Homo sapiens: one gene and its partners. The protein of the gene in region 1 binds, or shares a complex with, the protein of each later gene. Each region holds a gene or a part of one and is shown in the gene's direction. Other genes may lie near its edges. The genes, in order: TADA2B, TAF4 and TAF5.

The links.
Region 2: TADA2B (region 1) and TAF4 share a complex: the UniProt entries of both Homo sapiens proteins name them as parts of the TFTC-HAT complex.
Region 3: TADA2B (region 1) and TAF5 share a complex: the UniProt entries of both Homo sapiens proteins name them as parts of the TFTC-HAT complex.

The regions. Positions count from the first base shown.
Region 1 is NC_000004.12:7,038,487-7,046,371, forward strand, and holds the start of TADA2B (transcriptional adapter 2-beta), read left to right. Parts: upstream 1-4,885; 5' UTR 4,886-5,093; coding exon 5,094-5,363; intron 5,364-6,493; exon of another isoform or gene 6,494-6,616; intron 6,617-7,172; exon of another isoform or gene 7,173-7,745; intron 7,746-7,885. Other genes in the region: CFAP184 (cilia- and flagella-associated protein 184), read right to left, coding at 2,785-4,452. UniProt on the Homo sapiens protein: Coactivates PAX5-dependent transcription together with either SMARCA4 or GCN5L2.
Region 2 is NC_000020.11:61,974,274-61,979,025, reverse strand, and holds the end of TAF4 (transcription initiation factor TFIID subunit 4), read left to right. Parts: intron 1-2,690; coding exon 2,691-2,858; 3' UTR 2,859-4,228; downstream 4,229-4,752. UniProt on the Homo sapiens protein: The TFIID basal transcription factor complex plays a major role in the initiation of RNA polymerase II (Pol II)-dependent transcription.
Region 3 is NC_000010.11:103,377,968-103,385,135, forward strand, and holds part of TAF5 (transcription initiation factor TFIID subunit 5), read left to right. Parts: intron 1-267; coding exon 268-583; intron 584-1,640; coding exon 1,641-1,804; intron 1,805-1,916; coding exon 1,917-2,052; intron 2,053-3,753; coding exon 3,754-3,874; intron 3,875-5,270; coding exon 5,271-5,400; intron 5,401-7,168. UniProt on the Homo sapiens protein: The TFIID basal transcription factor complex plays a major role in the initiation of RNA polymerase II (Pol II)-dependent transcription.

The DNA.
Region 1 (7,885 bases):
AGCCTCCTGAGGCACTGAGACCACAGGCATGTACCACCACACCCGGCTAATCTTTTTGTATTTTTATAGAGATAGGGTTTTGTGATGTTTCCCAGGCTGGTTTCAAACTCCTGGGCTCAAGTGGTCCACCTGCCTTGACCTCCCAACATGTTGGGATTACAGGTGTGAGCCATGGCGACCGGCCTAAAGCTTTTTAACTCATTACTACTTTTGAGTGGTTTGATTTAAAAAAGTGTATTCGAGCCATGAAAGTTAGAAAAGGAATTTTAATCAACCTTCATTGGCTTCCAAGGGAGCACACTTTACAAAACAAAATCATGGCCGGGCGTGGTGGCTCATGCCTGTAAATCCCAGCACTTTGGGAGGCCGAGGCGGCCGGATCATGAGGTCAGGAGTTTGAGACCAGCCTGGCCAATATGGTGAAACCCCGTTTCTACTAAAAAATACAAAAAATTAGCCAGATGTGCTGGCGGGCGCCTGTAATCCCAGCTACTCGGGAGGCTAAGCCAGGAGAATCGCTTGAACCCGGGAGGTGGAGGTGGCAGTGAGCTGAGATCATGCCACGGCACTCTCCAGCCTGGGAGACAGAGTGAGACTCCGTCTCAAAAAAAAAAAAAAAAAAAGAAAAAAAACACAAAATCATGGCATCCAAAGATAACGTTCACAACCAAGTCCCCTGCCCAGAGTTGGGTTCCCACCGTTCTTCAGAGGTAGCCAGCACCAAAAACCGTGTTGCATTTTTTTATGATTCACTTAAGTGTAGGAGTGGGAGAATATGTTTAACCCCAAATCTGCACATCTCAAAATTCAATCTAGGATTAAGAAGAAATGAAAACAAGCCCCTAGCTCCAAGATAATCACTGATATTGCATTAAGGAAACAGACCTACCAGGTATTTTTGACACAAGGAATAAGGGGCATTTTACTATTTGATACTCAATGAACTCGTGTATAGCAAGGGCCCTGTTGTCGAGATCTGAAATAGACTGATACAGAAGGCTCTGTCTCCTGTGATGCCAGCAGCCACCGTGTAATATATTTTACACCTTGCAAAGCATGCAATACAACTGTCATTTTGTTTTCACTGGAAAACAAAATTTCAGTTTTTTTTTTTTTTTTTGAGACGGAGTCTCGCTCTTTCGCCCAAGCTGGACTGCAGTGGCACTATCTTGGCTCACTGCAAGCTCCGCCTCCCGGGTTCACGCCATTCTCCTGCCTCAGCCTCTCGAGTAGCTGGGACTACAGGCGCCCGCTACCACGCCCGGCTAATTTTTTTTTTTGTATTTTTAGTAGAGACGGGGTTTCACCGTGTTAGCCAGGATGGTCTCGACCTCCTGACCTCGTGATCCACCCGCCTCGGCCTCCCAAAGTGCTGGGATTTACAGGCGTGAGCCGCCGCGCCCGGGCCAAAATTTCATTTTTTGGTACAGATTAATGCATTTCTTCAGAGGATCCAAGAACATGTTTCATTAGACTTGAACACTGTCAGGCCAGGCACGGTGGCTCACGCCTGTAATCCCAGCACTTTGGGAGGCCGAGGCAGGTGTATCACTTGAGGCCAGGAGTTCGAGACCAGCCTGGCCAACATGGTGAAACCTCATCTCTACTAAAAATACAAAAATTAGTTGGGCATGGTGGCCTGTGCCTGTAATCCCCGCCACCTAGGAGGTTAAGGCGGGAGAATCGCTTGAACCCGGGAGGTGGAGGTTGCAGTGAGCCGAGATCCTGTCACTGCACTCCAGCCAGGGAGACAGAGACCCTGTCCCAAGGAAAATAATAATAATAATAATAATAATAATAATAATAATAATAATAATAATAATTGAAGACTGTCATTGAAGCAGAAACAACCATCAACAGTGAGTAGACTGAACTCCCTTTCATTGAAAAAGGGACGATGAAGAAACATCAGCTCCTCTCCTGTTTATCATCTCTCCTGTTTCCTGGATATTTTTATTGCCCCCTAAGCTCGTGCTAGTCACATATAAAAAAAATTTTTTTTTGAGACAAGAGTCTCGCTCTGTCGCCCAGGCTGGAGTGCAGTGGTGCGATCTCAGCTCACTGCAAGCTCTGCCTCCAGGGTTCACACCATTCTCCTGCCCCAGCCTCCCGAGTAGCTGGGACTACAGGCGCCCGCCACCAGGTCTGGCTAATTTTTTGTATTTTTAGTAGAGATGGGGTTTCACCGTGTTAGCCAGGATGGTCTCGATCTCCTGACCTCACGATCTGCCCACCTCGGCCTCCCAAAATGCTGGGATTATAGAGGTGAGCCACCTAGCCCGGCCCAAAATCACTTAAATTTAAGATTAATCTAAGGGGATTAGTGAGCTTCTAACTGAAACAGTGTCTCGGGACTACATAATTTAATAAATCCAAAGAATTTAATAATTAGCTTAATGCACAGGGTTTTTTTGTACCTTGCCCATTCGCTGAACTTTTAAACCCTCCTACATATGAAAGAGGAACAGTACTCTTTAGTATTACATCACTGAAATTATAGAATTGCTCAGACTTGAGACTTTTGACAGTTTTTCATGAGAAGTCAGTTACATTAAATCACCCTTTGTTTGCTTTTCTGGACCTATTTTTGCTCAATCCCAGATAAAACTCCTAACCCAGGTTTGGGCTCAGCACTGATTTGGAAGCTAAAACGTTTTGAGATAAATACAAAATAGAGTCCCGTCCCAAATGACACAGGCCTTTTTAATAGCAACGAAGGTAAAATAAAGCAGGACAGCACGTCCTGAGGATGAAGTGTTTTGCAGACTCTTCTCATCGATCTGGTCAAGAAGGGAGAAAGGCTTTGGCCTCCCTGATCTTCTGCCTCACGCCTCTGCAGGACAAAGTGAGGCTAGCGTGGTGGCGCTTCAGGGATTCCAGGCGCCGGTGAAGCAGTTCGGTCTTGTCCACCTTTTCTTCCAAGTCCCGAAGAAGTGAGTCCTTGCCTAGAAGGCCGCACTTCTGATTCAGTCTGATGTTGTCCGTCCGCAGCCCCTCTCGGGCTTGCTTCGTCTTGGTCAGGATGTCTCTTCCTAGGGCGGCCTGGGCCTCGATTTCTGCCAGCTGTGTCTTTTTGCACGCGTTCTCCATGTCCATGAAGTGCAGCTTTTCCTTCACGTGGGTTATTACTTGCACACTGTTGGTCACCTTGCTGCGAAGTTTTAAAAGTTCCTCATTTCGTTCCTCAATTTTCTCATTGAAGGTTTGGTTCTCAATCTTCAGCTGTTCAAAGTCAATAAGAAGCAGACCCTGGGTCAGGTCCTCCTGGGTCCTCATCCTGGTTTCAAAATGCACCAGGCTCTGCTTCAGCTGAATGTTCTCCAGCCGCACGGCGCTCATCTCCTTCTCCTTTTTATCCTCCAACGCCTGGATCTGCTCCACCTCTCGCAGAGCAGCCTGGCGCCCGCCCCTCATCCGACAGCTGCCCATGGCCTGCATCACCACCTGCTTCTTGAGTGCCTGGAAGCGTCGCCACTCCTTCTCCACCCTGGTGAGCTTCTCCTGGCACTGCCGCTTCAACTGGCCCAGCTCCTGGTGGTACCACTGCAGGTCGTCTGCCTGCTGCTTCTTCAGCTCCTCCAGCATGCCCAGATGGCGCAGGTACGCTTGCTCTTTCTCGGGGGCCTCGGCCTCTGCGCCCCGGTCAGCCACCTCAGCGGCCTCCAGGCCCTTCTTTCTGCGCAGCGCCTCGAAGATCTTGTGCTGCAGGTATAGGTTGTAGCGCTGGGAGCGGTTCCGCTCCACCAGCAGGGAACGGTACTGGTCCAGGAGGTCGCTGCGCAGCTGCTGCTCCTGCAGCTTCTGGACCTCCTCGGACCACTCGAGGTCCTCAAACTCGTCCCTTCCATAGAGGCGCTTCCCCTCTTCCTGGCTTTTGGCCGGGCGTCCTTCCCCATCCCTCTCCTTGCTCTCCGCGCCGTCTCTCTGCGTCTCCTCCTTGTCCTCTTCCTCCCCCTCCACCCGCTCTGTCTCGGCCTCCGGGGCTGCAGCAGCCTCTTCCTCATCGATCCTGGTCAGCGGCAGAGAGGCCTGGAACCTGACTTCCTTCCCCTCTGCCGCCTGCTCCAGTTCCTCCGCCCCCGCCTCCGCCTCTAGTTCCTCGGGCCCGGCTCCGGGCTCCGGCTGGGCGGGCTCCTCAGCCCCAACCTCGGCCGGCTCTTCGGGCTCGGGCTGGGGCTCGGCCGGCCTCCCCGGCTCTCCAGGCCCCTCCTCGCCCGCAGCCTCGGCTGCCGTTAGCCCTTTCGGGGCCTCGGCCTGCTCGTCCGCGGCGGTGCCTCCCTGCGAAGCCGCTTGCTCCTCCTCCTCCTCCTCCGGCTCCGACTCCAGCTCCCCGGGTTCGGGAGAGGTCGGAGGGCCAGAGCTGGCCTTGATCTTGGACGGCCGCGCGGCCAGGCTTTCCCCGTCTCCGCCTTCCCCGCCGGGGTCCTTAGTGTGCTCAGAGCTGACGTCCATCTCCTCCCGGCTCGGCCAGCGCAGCGGACCCCGGCAGGACGCTGTTAGGTTTCCCGGGGCAACAGAAGGCGCGCGCGCTGGGCCCGGCGATTGGCCAGGCGACAGGCCGTCGTCCAGCGCCTTCTCCCCGCTGCCCGGCGAGAGCAAGCCAATGGGAGGCCGCGAGCTGACGATAGGCGAGATTGATTGGAAGCGGCCGTGGGCTCTCGCCGCGAGGGGCGTGGCGCCCCCGCCGGGCTTTCTGCCTGCCCATTTCCCACCGCCGGGCCTGGGGCGGGGCGTTCAGGAGGCTCTGGGAAAGGCGGCGGTGGCCGGCGCGGGGGGCGCGCAGGCGCAGAGCGGCGGGCCGGGCGTCCGCAAGGTGGCGCCCGCGGGGCGCCTGCGCGATGCGGCGGGGCGACAGCTGCGGCGGCGGTGGCGGCCGGGCCGGGCCGGACGGCGCCTGCGTACTGAGGGGGGACGCGGCCCGGCTGGCTGGCTCTGGCGGCGGCTGGGCTGGGGCCGCGGTGGCGGCAGCCGCGGCGGCGGGCGGCGGTTGCTCGTGCGCGGCGGCGGCGGCGGGTCCCGCGGGCGGCGGGGCGCTGACGGCCGGGGGCGCGGCGGCTGCGGCGGGCCGGGCGGCGGGCGGCGAGCGGGGGAAGATGGCGGAGCTGGGGAAGAAGTACTGCGTGTACTGCCTGGCCGAGGTGAGCCCGCTGCGCTTCCGCTGCACCGAGTGCCAGGACATCGAGCTGTGCCCCGAGTGCTTCTCGGCCGGCGCCGAGATCGGCCACCACCGCCGCTACCACGGCTACCAGCTGGTGGACGGCGGGCGCTTCACGCTCTGGGGGCCCGAGGCCGAGGGCGGCTGGACCAGTCGCGAGGAGCAGCTGCTGCTGGACGCCATCGAGCAGTTCGGCTTCGGAAACTGGGTGAGCGGCGCGACGGGGGCCGGGTCCCGGCTAGGGCACTGGAAGGCCCGCGCCTCTCCTGTAATCGGGCGCGCAGGCAGCGCTGGACCTGCTCGCTCGCTCCGCACCCCAGAAGGCCCCGGAGGTGGGGAGGGCGACGCTGCCGGTTTATAGTCGGGCACCTGTCGGAACCTATGCTCTGAGAGGCTGTGACGCGCCCAAGGTCACACAGCCGAGACGGGGCCGAGTGGGGCTTTGAACGCTGGCTTCTGACAGCAGAGCCATTTCCCTCACCTTCAGGGACGCCTTCACAGGCGTTTGCGGAGTGCAGACGTTGGGCAAGACTCGGTGCCTTACCTGAGTTCGTGGAGACAGGCAGGCCCACAGACTCGACAGAAAGCGGTGGGAGCACCAGGGAAGGAGAGCGGTGGGCGCCCTGCGGCTTGTCTCGGGGTCTCTGGGGCGGCCCCGTTTGCTTTCTGTCACTGTATGCATGTGCCCTGTGTGGTCCGCAGTGCACAGAGTCTTTTGTGGGTAGCGTGCCTGGTTTATGCTTGGGTCCCCACAACCCACGACCTTGTGCGAATGGTCAGTAAAGAATGAACAAAGAGGCCTGGCCTGGGAGGCCTGGGGCTTGGGTTTTGCTCTCTTTACCTTTGAGGTTTCTGTAGAGACAGCCCTGTGTGGGGAGCGGTGAGAGCTGGACTGGATCCACTTACGCTAGCAACATCGTGTGCTAGGTTCTGTCCTTGAGAGAGGAACATGGTTCTCTCTGGGCGGTCTCTCAGCTCTCCTTCCACTCTGGAAGCTTGCATCCGTATTAGAAAGGAGAAAATCTCTAGCCGTATTCCCGCTCATAACCACCAAAGACATGTGGCCATCCCCGGGCACCCTGAGGAGGAGGGGAGTGAGACACCCCCAGCGCCCTTAGCTTTCCAGAGTCTTCCCCTGCTACACCAGGTGCCTGCTTCTCGGAACAGCATCCATCTCGCTGCCACCTCTCCAGCAGTCCTGCCTGGGCTGCTTTGATTGCCTTTTGCTTTCCTTTCCTGAGTGAGTCTCAGGGCCGCCTCACATACTCATTCTGAAGCCCTGGAATGTTGATTCTCCTCCCAACTCCTTAGAGAAGATGCTCCTTTACAAACCCTTACCTAATGGCCACCAGCACTGGGATCTCCATTTTTCAGAAACTCCGTCCCACCTTGTCCTTCCATGCTGTTTGTGGATATGCACTGAGCATGTGTTCTGTGCGGATTCTACAGTGGCGGAGAACTCTGAAGGAAAGAGAAGGCTTTATCCCTGCATTCAGGGAGCTTAAAGTGTGGTACTGACTTGGTCCTAGGCCCAGAGCTCTTCCCTAGCACCAGCCCTCCATGTCCAGCCGCCTCCCTGGCCTACCTGCCTCTCTTAGTTCCTTGTTCCACTAAGTTCCTGATCCAATTTATCAGCTGTCTCCTCACAGTACATGCAGAACAAACCACTTCTTACAGCCGTAGTCCCGGCTGATGTTTACGTTTACTTCTTGCCTTGACCACTTTGGGAGCCTCCTTGTTCGTTATTCCCCCTCCACCCCATTCCCCTATTCCACACACCATAACCGGAGCGAGCTTTGGAAGCACAAAGCGCCTCACACCGGCCTCAGTGGCTTTTACTTCAATTAAGGCAGCTTTAGAAGTGTTGAGCAATGAGATCTCATCTGTTACCTCCCTTGATCGTTTTATATTTCTTCTACCTAGAGTGCTCTCCCTGTAAATCATGGCCCAGGATTGAGCTTTCCACTTAAATATCAGTGCCTCAGAGGGCCCTTCCCTTCACCATCCCAGCACTTACCTCTACGTTAGCTGCTAAGGAGGCGCAGAGCCTTGGTGGCATATCTGTGCGTATCTCAGGACATTTTCCCGACAGCCCTTGGCAGTTGGCTTTGGACGGACCAGTTTGACTTCAGAGCCTGTACTCTTAACTTCACTGTCTGCACTGCCTTCCCTGCGGCACTGTGGAAAATACACAGAACACAAGACCTGGGGAACAAAAACATCTATGTGGTTTTGGAAGAAACCAGGCTAGAAGTGGAGAGGCCTCTTCTAAAACAATACTTTCCGAACGAATGTGCACACAGAGCACCTGGGGAGCTGGTGAAAATGCAGATTCTGACTCAGCTGGTAGAGGAGGCAGAGCCAGGACAGGAAGAGAATGGGGCTGGGACTTGGTGCACAGCGAGCCTGGCCAGGCTGCGGTCAGGGCGTTCTCCCGTTGCACCAGCGCGAGGTTACGGTGAGGCCTGAGAGCCTGCATTGCAACCAGGACTCAGGGGGTGCACTGGCCCGTGACCACCCACCCCCCCGGAGTGGTGAGGCACCAGTATTTGGTCGTGCTGCCATCTCCCTGGCAGAACCTCGTTGCGTTATCCCCCGGGACTTTATTTTTCTTCCTCTGAGGCTGTTCTGCAGCTCTGAGATGGGTGGTGCTCTTCTGAGCATGTATCCAGCTATGTGCACAGAGCTGGCGTGTCCCACTTTGGCATATTTAGCCTCTGCCCGCTCTGG
Region 2 (4,752 bases), on another chromosome or scaffold:
CAGGGAGTCTGGACCCCTCCTGCCTGGGGCGAAGTGGGCTGGGGAGAAGCGGGAGTGTGCCATGTAGAGAAAGGCAATTGGAGTATCAGGTAGGTTAGATTTGCGTTTTTCTTTTAAGATTTAAGAAAAATTTGAAGAAAAATTTGTATTGATAAAACTCACAGAATCTGGAGAAGTTATATTGTTCATTCATAGTGCACCTTCAGAGCTTGGTGCAGAAGCAGGGCCTGGCATCAGTTTCTCAGCGTGCTGGGCCCTGGGGGTGGCCTCAGCCCCAAGGAGGCACCGTCTGGCCTTGGTTGGTCTCGCCCCCTCCCTTGGTTGGTCTCGCCCCCGGCCTTGGTTGGTCTCGCCCCCGGCCTTGGTTGGTCTCGCCCTCGGCCTTGGTTCGTCTTGCCCCCGGCCTTGGTTGGTCTCGCCCCCTCCTTTGGTTGGTCTCGCCCCCGGCCTTGGTTGGTCTCACCCCCTCCTTTGGTTGGTCTCGCCCCCGGCCTTGGTTGGTCTCGCGCCCTCCCTTGGTTGGTGTCGCGCCCTCCCTTGGTTGGTGTCGCGCCCTCCCTTGGTTGGTGTCGCGCCCTCCCTTGGTTGGTCTCGCCCCCTCCCTTGGTTGGTGTCGCGCCCTCCCTTGGTTGGTGTCGCGCCCTCCCTTGGTTGGTGTCGCGCCCTCCCTTGGTTGGTGTCGCGCCCTCCCTTGGTTGGTGTCGCGCCCTCCCTTGGTTGGTGTCGCGCCCTCCCTTGGTTGGTGTCGCGCCCTCCCTTGGTGTCGCGCCCTCCCTTGGTTGGTCTCGCGCCCTCCCTTGGTTGGTCTCGCGCCCTCCCTTGGTTGGTCTCGCGCCCTCCCTTGGTTGGTCTCGCGCCCTCCCTTGGTTGGTCTCGCGCCCTCCCTTGGTTGGTCTCGCGCCCTCCCTTGGTTGGTCTCGCGCCCTCCCTTGGTTGGTCTCGCGCCCTCCCTTGGTTGGTGTCGCGCCCTCCCTTGGTTGGTCTCGTGCCCTCCCTTGGTTGGTGCTGACACTTGCGTTAGAATATCTTGATTTCTTACCCTCGGCAGCCTTTAAATTGAGCACCTGAGATGAGCGTCTCTCCTTCACCCCGGTCCTCTTTTTTAGCTGCTGAACTATTTTGAAGATAGAAACATCAAACACAGTCCGGAATTTATAGCAGGTGTCACTGGGTCACACAGCCTGTTTGGGTGGTGCCTGTGAGAGCCCTGCCCTCACCCTGCAAACTGTCACTCACCTCGCCTGAGTTCTCTTTTGGGAGGCCTGGCCCTCAGGTGCGGATCACTTTATAATGAGCTAGTGTGGAGTGCGGAGGCTTCAGTAGCAAAGGGACCCCGGGCAGGTCTGAAGAAGGGCCCTCACAGCGCAGGGCGTCTGAACGGAGACAGGTGCCCTCATCTGTTTGAATCTCACAGGAATAAAGAAAATGCAGTGGGTCAGAGACACACTTGCATGCCATCACACAAGGCAGCCATGCTCCCAGCCTGAACTGAAAGTGGCAGAACGGGGAAGGGGGGAGGAAGGACGGCATGAGGGGCGGGGCCATGTCAGGGCTGTTCACAGCAAGGCTCCCACTGGCACACACAGCAGAATCCGCTCCTTCCAGCATCTTAACTTTGGTTGAGAATGTGCTGTAAAGATGCCATCGTAATCTTTGTACTTAAATATATGTGAGCAGCTTTCACCATCGGAGCAGAACTTAGTTTTCATGCCAGCTGGGGGAAATGACAGCTGTTGGGAGTTGTGTGGCACGTGCCCCGCTGGGCGGTGTCGTGTGTGTGTGGTGCGCGCCCCGCTGGGCGGTGTTGTGTGTGTGTGGCGCGCGCCCCGCTGGGCGGTGTCGTGTGTGTGGCTCGTGCCCCGCTGGGCGGTGTCGTGTGTGTGGCGCGTGCCCCGCTGGGCGGTGTCGTGTGTGTGGCGCGTGCCCCGCTGGGCGGTGTCGTGTGTGTGGCGTGTGCCCCGCTGGGCGGTGTCGTGTGTGTGGCGCGTGCCCTGCTGGGCGGTGTCATGCAGGTGTCATCAGCTGAAACCGCCAGAGCTCTCCACAGGAGCTGGCACGCAGCAGCTATGCTTCTCCAAGCAGGAACACATCTGAGGCAGCTCGGGAGACACCTGGTCACCTGTAGGGGCTGACGGAGGCGGCGTCTGTGCAGCCAGGGCCCAGCCAGAGGCTCAGGGATCACTGTGGGAGCCACTGAGAAACCCAGCCTTCCCAGCTGACCCAGCATGCCCAGTCCCAGCCAACCCCAGGCCTCCCAGTGCAGGAATTCAGCAGCCAAGCGGGGATGACACACACAGACCTAGTGTGGCTTTTGTGCCCCAGCTGAGTCCACAGGCAGTCCAGCTGTGGTCACATGGAGGGTGGCCCTGGGGCCGCTCAGCCATTTGCCTTGGGTGGGTGCCACCCCCTAGTCCATCCTCAGCCCCAGGACCAGGTCCAAGCACTGTGGGGCATTGGGCAGCATCTGAGTGTGCCCTGTCCTGAAGGTGCAGCATGGGGCCTCCTGCCCTTGCCCCTGCCCTGGCAGGGCCCTGGACAGCACCCCAGCTCCAGCTGTGGGCCTACCGGAAGGAGCCCGTGCCAGGCCTGGCCTCCTCTGGAATCGGGGTACTTGGCTCAGATACACAGGCTCATTGCAAGCCCCACTCTGAGCCCCACTAACACACTGTCTTCTCCTTTTTCATCACCAGGGGTCGGGCCCCGGCTCAGTGGTCCCAGGCAGCTCGGGTGTCGGAACCCCCAGACAGTTCACGCGACAAAGAATCACGCGGGTCAACCTCAGGGACCTCATATTTTGTTTAGAAAATGAACGTGAGACAAGCCATTCACTGCTGCTCTACAAAGCATTCCTTAAGTGACACAGGAGGACGCCTGGGGACTTTTTATATATTTGCAGATTACGCCTTTTTGTAACGAGCAAATGGGATATTGTTTAAAAAACAGCCACCTCTTTACAATGGAACAGTTTTATATTCCTGTTTCTAAATCAGCTCTTCAGTGTGAAAGAAAACACGTTTCTGTAACAGAGAGAACACAAAGGCCTGTGGATACTCTTAAAGGACAATTAAATCTTAACTCATCTTGATTGAGTGGCCTTCCTGCCAAACAAGCCATATATAAAGACTGATGGAATCGTTAGCAAATAATTAGCTGCCCTCTGTCAACTCATAGCAGTTTCTGCATTATTTGTGCATTTTGGTTTAGTTCTACCTAACTTACTATGTAGGTGTATGTCTACAGCCGATGACCTCATTTCGTTTATTTTATTTTTGTAATAGTCAGTTGGCAAAGCAAACTGATTTTTTAGACTATTTATCTTCCTTCCCTTCCCCTCCCACCCCGCTCTCCTCTCTGCCCCCTGCCCTCCCCTCCCCTCCCTTCCCCTCCACTCCGCTGAGAATCCTGGAGGAATACACAATTCATCGTTGCACCCCCACCTCAGAGTGTAATCGCATTTCTGCTTGGTAGAGGCCGAGCCCAGCAAAGGTGGCTCCTTCTGAATGTGTGGTCAGCATCTGTACAAATGCATTTTATTTGCTATAGTTTGTAAAGCTGTAAAGTTAAAAGAGATGAAAACCTTTTCAGCATAAATATATTTTACTTGCACTGTGTTTTTTAGCTAAAAGTGAAAACCTAGATTAAATAAAATCAAAGTTGAGAAGAATCATCAAAAGACTGTTTCTCGGTGTGAATCAAGTGTTGAAAAATGGTTGGTGTATTTTGTCAGTAATTGTACATAACTTTTGGCACATGACATAGAAATGGCTATGTAAACTATAATTATTTTGCTAAGAGACTGTATGCAAGCCTTGGGCCGACTTTACAGACGTCCAGAGCAAAGCCCCTTCTTTGTACCTATTTTTTTATTACAAATATACTAATTGGTTCTTTCTATTTTCAGAGGTTATTGTATGAAATTGTCTATTGATAGTACTTTTATGACTGTAAATACTCTGGCTTTCTCCGTGTGAATTCTCACATTAGACTTTAATTCGAGCGCGTGTGAACTGAACGCTGATCAGTATTTTTTATCAACACCTGAGAACTGTTACACCTTTTATTTTGTCTTTTAGGAAATCCCTGTCTTTCCATTTTTTCATGTAAATTTTGCACAGTTACTTGTTCATATGTAAATATTTTACTTTCAGAAATGAAGTTTTTAATTGCTATTGTTTTATATAGGATTGAAAGAAAATTAACTCCTTTATTAAAAACAAATTTATCTGTATTTGTTTTGCCTATTTTTCCTCCGTTTTCCAGTTTTAGATTCTACTGCCAGATTGCACTCCGGCTCTGCTGAGGTGCTGGTTTCTGAGCCACCTGTTGGAATCTGTAGCTGAGCCCCATCAGAGCCGGGAGAAAGAACTTTCTCTGTGAGGACAGGGGCCGAGCTACTCTCTGCGTGGAGTCTGGGGGCTGGCGGCTGCGCTTAACACCTTCTGCTGTCACAGGTGGAGATGAGCTGGGCACAGCTAGGAGGGGCGGCGGGAGGCCCAGTGCTGGGGGAGATGTACACAGAAACGCACGTGGCGAGCCCGGCTGAGGTGCCCAGAGGGCCCCAGCCTTGACGCAGACCTCCTGTGGCGAGAGAGGGCGTCTCCAGGGCAGTTTGTGGTATTGGTTGGTCCTGACAGGTCACAGCTCCTGCTGGGCCCTCAGAGGCTCAGCGCCAATGTGTACCGCTCCCTGCCTTCGAGCACCTTGGAGAGCCTTTGGGAACGGTCTCTGATGCAATTGGAGTTGGTCTCCCAT
Region 3 (7,168 bases), on another chromosome or scaffold:
TATTTTTCACTTAGGATATTTAAGTTCTTTTCTTAAAATGTTTGTGATACATTTCATTAGAGAATTACATTTGTTCATTTTTAGAATAAATTCAGAAACTGAATTATAGTCATTTTGAAATGAGTTACTTCTTATCCTACAGCTTAGTTCAGGATTATTTAGACTACTACATTGAAAATATTCTGGGATGGTTTATAAGTATATGGGGGAAAGGCAGATCCCTTAATGATTACATTGAAAAATGACTTTTTAAAATCACTGAAACAGGTTCCATGGAGATCAGGAATGTTATTACCAGGATGACCTACGAGTATTATCTAGTCTTACCAAAAAGGAACACATGAAAGGGAATGAGACCATGTTGGATTTTCGAACAAGTAAATTTGTTCTGCGTATTTCCCGTGACTCGTACCAACTCTTGAAGAGGCATCTTCAGGAGAAACAGAACAATCAGATATGGAACATAGTTCAGGAGCACCTCTACATTGACATCTTTGATGGGATGCCGCGTAGTAAGCAACAGATAGATGCGATGGTGGGAAGTTTGGCAGGAGAGGCTAAACGAGAGGCAAACAAATCAAAGGTATGGGAATGAACCTAAGAACTCTATAATGCAGATTATGAAAAATTGTAGCATTTCCATCTACATAAGTTACACATTTTTCTTATAGCTAGCTTGGAAACAATTTTTTTCGTTTGTTTGTTTTGAGACGGAGTTTTGCTCTTGTCACCCAAGCTGGAGTGCAGTGGCGTGATCTCAGCTCACTGCAACCTCCACCTCCTGGGTTCAAGTGATTCTCCTGCCTCAGCTTCCCGAGTAGCTGGGATTAGAGGCACACGCCACCAACCTGGCTAATTTTTGTATTTACTTTAGTAGAGACAGGGTTTCACCATGTTGGCCAGGCTGGTCTCGAACTCCTGACCTCAGATGATCCACCCGACTCCGCCTCCCAAAGTGCTGGCATAACAGGCGTGAGCTACTGCGCCTGGCCGCTTGGAAACAATTTTATACTGTATATAAAATTTTGTGTTCTAAGGGTGATGTTTATATGTGACAATTTGGGTATGGTTGCATTTTATGGAACCCTGAATGCAGTGGCTGAAACAAAGAATTTTTCTCCCATAAAATGAATTTCAGAGGAAGGCCTTCCAGGGCTGGCATGAAGGCTCCACAGTGCCATCAAGGTCCCTGGCTCCTTCTGGTTTCTGATCCACCATCTTCAGAATGTGGCTTTCCTCTTTGTGCTCACAAATGGCTGTTGCAGTTTCAGCATTGCAGCTCCGTTCCAAGAAGGAAGAAGGGGGAGGACAAAAGGCATATCTCTGCTGAAGCTTTCCCTTTTTAATCAGGAAAACAATATTTTTTTGATACAACCATACCCAGTATACTTATATGGACATTCCTAGCTGAAAGGGAGCCTGGGAACAGAAATGATTTAACTGAGCACATTGCTACTCCAATAAAATCAGGGTTCTGTTAGTAAGGAAAAAGGGGAGAATGGCTATTGGGTAGACAAATACAGAACCCTGCTTCAGAGTGTAAATTACTATTTTGTAATTGTGATTTATCCTATCAAGATGTAAAATGGGTATATTAATGAATAAATAATTTTAAAAATGTTGGCTCTTTTGACTTGTAGGTATTTTTTGGTTTATTAAAAGAACCAGAAATTGAGGTACCTTTGGATGACGAGGATGAAGAGGGAGAAAATGAAGAAGGAAAACCTAAAAAGAAGAAGCCTAAAAAAGATAGTATTGGATCCAAAAGCAAAAAACAAGATCCCAATGCTCCACCTCAGAACAGGTGAGGAAAAAACTTCAGGAACTTGTGTGTGGAGGTATAAGACAACATGTTATATAGAGTTCAAGTTTGTTAATAGTCAAAAGGTAATTTTGACTCTCTTTTTCTTTCACAGAATCCCTCTTCCTGAGTTGAAAGATTCAGATAAGTTGGATAAGATAATGAATATGAAAGAAACCACCAAACGAGTGCGCCTTGGGCCGGACTGCTTACCCTCCATTTGTTTCTATACATTTCTCAATGCTTACCAGGTTGGTAAAAAAATTGGGCGATTTCTGCCTGGAGAGTCATGTAGGATGATGATTTACCATTAAGAGAGAAACAAATGTATTAGCTAAAATGGAGTTTCGTTATTTAAACTCCTTTTTTTTTTTTTTCTGAGACAGAGTCTCGCTCTGTCGCCCAGCTGGAGTGCAGTGGCGCGATCTCAGCTCACTGCAATGTCCGCCTCCCAGGTTCATGCCATTCTTCTGCCTCAGCTTCCCCAGCAGCTGGGACTACAGGCGCATACCGCCATGCCCGGCTAATTTTTTGTATTTTTAGTAGAGATGGGGTTTCACCGTGTTAGCCAGGATGGTCTCGATCTCCTGACCTTGTGATCCGCCTGCCTCAGCCTCCCAAAGTGCTGGGATTACAGGCATGAGCCACCGCATGTGGCCCCTAAACTCTTATACAATTTAAAGACAGCATTCAGGAAGAGAGAATTGGATACTGCACAGAATAGATAGAAGTCAATGTTTAATGGCATTTGTTTCACCGATCAGAATTCTGCTAGCCTTTGAGGAGGAGCAAATTGTAGTTCATTTCTGTTGAACTTGGTTTAAGTACTTACGTAAACTTATTTATCAATTTTTTTTTTTTTTTGAGACAGAGTTTTGTGCTGTCACCTAGGGTGGAGTGCAGAGGTGAGATCTCAGCTCACTGCAACCTCTGCCTCCCGGGTTCAAACGATTCTTGTGCCTCAGCCTCGGCCTCCTGAATAGCTGGGATTACAGGCACCCTCCACCATGCCTGGCTAATTTTTGTATTTTTAGTAGAGACAGGATTTTGCCGTGTTGCCCAGGCTGGTCTTGAACTCCTGACCTCAAGTGATCTGGCCGCCTCAGCCTCCCAAAGTGCTGGGATTACAGGCGTGAGCCACCGTGCCCAGCCATATAAACCTTATTTTATTTTATTATTTTAATTTAATTTCATTTTTTGAGATGGAGTCTTGCTCTGACACCTAGGCTGGAGTGCGGTGGTGCAATTTTGGCTCACTGCAACCTCCGCCTCCCAGTTCAAGTGATTCTCCTGCCTCAGCCTCCTGAGTAGCTGGGATTATAGGCATGAGCCACCACGCCCAGCTAATTTTTGTATTTTCAGTAGAGAAGGGGTTTCACCAGGTTGACCAGGCTGGACTTGAATTCCTGAGCTCAGGCAATCCACCCGCCTCAGCCTCCTAAAGTGCTGTGATAACAGGCATGAACCCCCGCGCCCGGCCAAACTTAGTATTTTATTTTATTATTATTTTTTTTTTGAGATGGAGTCTCACTCTGTCGCCCAGGCTGGAGTGCAGTGGCACGATTTTGGCTCACTGCAACCTCTGCCTCCTGGGTTCAAGTGATTCTCTTGCGTCAGCCTCACAAGTAGATGGGATTACAGGTGCCCACCACCCTGCTTGGCTAATTTTGGTATTTTTAGTAGAGATGGGGTTTCACCATGTTGGCCAGGCTGGTCTTGAACTCCTAACCTCAGGTGATCCACCTGTCTCAGCCTCCCAAATTGTTGGGATTACAGGCATGAGCCAGTGCGCTTGGCCAATATTTTAAATCAAGAATTTTAAAAGTCTTTATATATTCCTTAAAATAGAGGATTGAGGAGATATTTAGTATAGTGTGAAAATGATTAACATTTGCTTCCTATCTCTAAATATCCTAAAATAGTATTGTTTAGTCTAACCCTTTTATTGGCAGGGTCTCACTGCAGTGGATGTCACTGATGATTCTAGTCTGATTGCTGGAGGTTTTGCAGATTCAACTGTCAGAGTGTGGTCGGTAACACCCAAAAAGCTTCGTAGTGTCAAACAAGCATCAGGTAACTGAGATGACCTTTTGGAATGTGAACTTGCCATTAGTCTATACCAATCTTGATTCCATGGAAAATACACAGGAGATTGTGTTCTTTACAGAAATTCACTTGATTTTACTTTAACTCAAGATTCTAACATTCCCAACAGTGAAAAAAGCTTTGGAGTGACTGGGGTGCTAGACTGGTTTAATTTCTTTAGGTCTCAGTTTTCTCATCTGTAGAATGAGTGAGTATTAAGCTAAAAAACTTAAAGTTAAAAATCTAACATTTTATGATTGCTTGTAAATCTTAAAAAATCTTTAAATAAGGGATGGTACTTCCTGTTTTAGTCATAAAAATGGCTAAAAAGAACAAATAAGGTCAGGATTTTATTTGAAAGTTTTTTACTTTTTGTTTTTTTGAGACAGAGTCTCGCCCTGTCACCCAGGCTAGAGTGCAATGGCGCAGTCTTGGCTCACTACAGCCTCTACCTCCCAGGTTCAAGGGATTTTCTTGTGTCAGCTCCCCAGCTCCCCAGTAGCTGGGATTACAGGTGCCCACCACCATGCCCAGGTAATTTTTGTATTTTTAGTAGAGATAGGGTTTCGCCATGTTGGCCAGGCTGGTCTCGAACTCCTGACCTCAAGTGATCCGCCTGTCTGGCCTCCCAAAGTGCTGGAATTATAGGTGGCTCACTGCAACCTCCACCTCCCTGGTTCAAGCGATTTTCCTGCCTCCACACCCGGCCTGAAATAAAGTTTTTTACTAACTATATTATTTAAATAAAACAATATATTTTAAATTATTTCAATATTTCCATAGGTTTTTTTTTTTTAATTTTAAATTTTTTTTAGATGGGGTCTCACTCTGTTGCCCAGGCTAGAATGCAGTGGTGTGATCACGGCTCACTGCAGCCTCTAATCCCTGGGCTGAAGTGATCCTCCCACTTCAGCCTCCTGAGTAGCTGAGACTACAGGTGTGTGCAACCACACTGGCTAATTTTTTATTTTTTGTAGAGACAGGGTTTCTCCATGTTGTCCAGGCTGGTCTCGAACTCCTCTGGGCTCAAGCAATCTGCCCGCCTTGGCCTACCAAAATTCTGAGACTACAGGTGTGAGCCACCATGCCTGGCCCATAGTTTTCATTTTGTGAAACACTGTGGCATAGTGGGCAAAACTGAGTTTCAGTTCTGGTTCCCACACTGAGTAGCTGTGTGCACTCTAGCAAATTATCTGTTCTGAACGTCATTTTCTTCTCTTACACGCTGAGATGATACTGCCTAATTTAGAGGGATTAGCAAAGTGCGGTTGGTATATAGGAGGAAATTTTCAAATGTTAATTCCTCTCCTGCACTGTGATATGATTACTTTAAAAGTTTTGATGAATGTACTTATAAAATATCAATATTTCTGGACCATTTTAGATCTTAGTCTTATAGACAAAGAATCAGATGATGTCTTAGAAAGAATCATGGATGAGAAAACAGCAAGTGAGTTGAAGATTTTGTATGGTCACAGTGGGCCTGTCTACGGAGCCAGCTTCAGTCCGGATAGGTAAAATACAAACAATAAAAATTAAATACTGCTATGTTATATTGAAATTATATAAAAGTTAACTACTGGAAACATTATGCAAATGCTGGGAAAATTCTGATAAAAATCTCATGGTTGTCTGACGTTCATCATCTTTTAGAATCTTGCCATTTGCTAATTCATCTTTGAATCCTGGTGTTTGTACATGGTAGCAATTTAATGTATACTCACTTTTTTTTTTTTTTTTTTGAGACAGAGTTTCGCTCTTGTTGCCCAGGTTGGAGTGCAATGGCGTGATCTTGGCTTACCGCAACCTCCGCCTCCTGGGTTCAAGCGATTCTCCTGGCTCAGCCTCCTGAGTAGCTGGGATTACAGGCATGCGCCACCACACCTGGCTAATTTTATTTTTTTATTAGAGATGGGGTTTCTCCATGTTGGTCAGGCTGGTCTTGAACTCTCAACCTCAGGTGATCTGCCCACCTCAGCCTCCCAAAGTGCTGGGATTACAGGCGTGAGCCACTGTGCCTGGCCTGTATACTCAAATTTATAGAATCAAAATGCACAGTTTCAGGGCTTACTGGTTTTAAAAATTAGCTTTAGTATTTCCCTTTTTTTTTTTTAATTATTTTTATTTGTTACCCAATGGTAAATAACCAACCAAAGCTTTAGTTTTATAGAACTCCATTAGGGGTTGAATTGCTTCATTGGGTCCCTGCATTGTGTCTTCTGGCTGCTTCATCAAATTTAAGACAAATTCCTGACATTAATGGCATATTAGCTAGTAATTGAGGATTAATCTTTCTATAATCAAAAGTACTAAGAGTAAATGAAAAAGGAAATTCAAAATTGGTTTGCTTCCCTTTAGGTGTATGATTACAATGTCATCCTATGTGTATAGGTATTTGCCTATTTTTCATGATCTCTAACACTGTAAAAATGGGTGGAGGGTGTTTTGTATTCATAATACCATCAGTATATTACTTGGATAGATAATAGCTTTCAGGCCGGGCACAGTGGCTCACGCCTATAATCCCAGCACTTTGGGAGTCCAAGACAGGCGCATCACCTGAGATCAGGAGTTTGAGACCAGCCTGGCCAACATGGGAAATCCTGTCTCCACTAAAAAGTACAAAAATTAGCAGGGTGTGGTGGCGCCCACCTGTAATCCTGGCTACTTGGGAGGCCGAGGCAGGAAAGTCACTTGAACATGGGAGGCAGAGGTTGCAATGAGCCGAGATTGCACCACTGCACTCCAGCCTGGGTGATAAGAGCAAAACTCCATCTCAAAAAAAGAAGAAAAGAAAAAAAGATAATAGCTTTCCATCCATCAAGGTTTCATCATTACGAAACTTTGAGAATTAGGTTTTTTGTTGCTTGATAAGGTTTTGCCAGATGATACATTTTTGAGGGAAACGTCTGATTTCAGTGAAAATTGTAATAACCTTCTGACTATCAATCTTTTGTGTTTATGCTTGAAAAAGGTAGAGAATTATTAGCATGTCTGTAGTTTTTTTTTCTTTTTCTTCAAAAGACATTTCCTTTTTAATTCTTACATAGCTTACACAGCATGGGAAAATAGCATCTTTATTTTAGGGTCAAAAATTGTTGAGTTTTAAGTGACATATCACATTTCTTAAACTTTCTCAATTGACCTTATTTGACTATACTTTGTTAATTACCCCTGCTATTTTTTTCTTGTAAAGAACTCTGATTTTCCCTAAGTTTTTGTATCATATTACCTCATTCAGTAGGTGCTCGGTATATGTAGAGTGTCAGGGTTAACATTAGT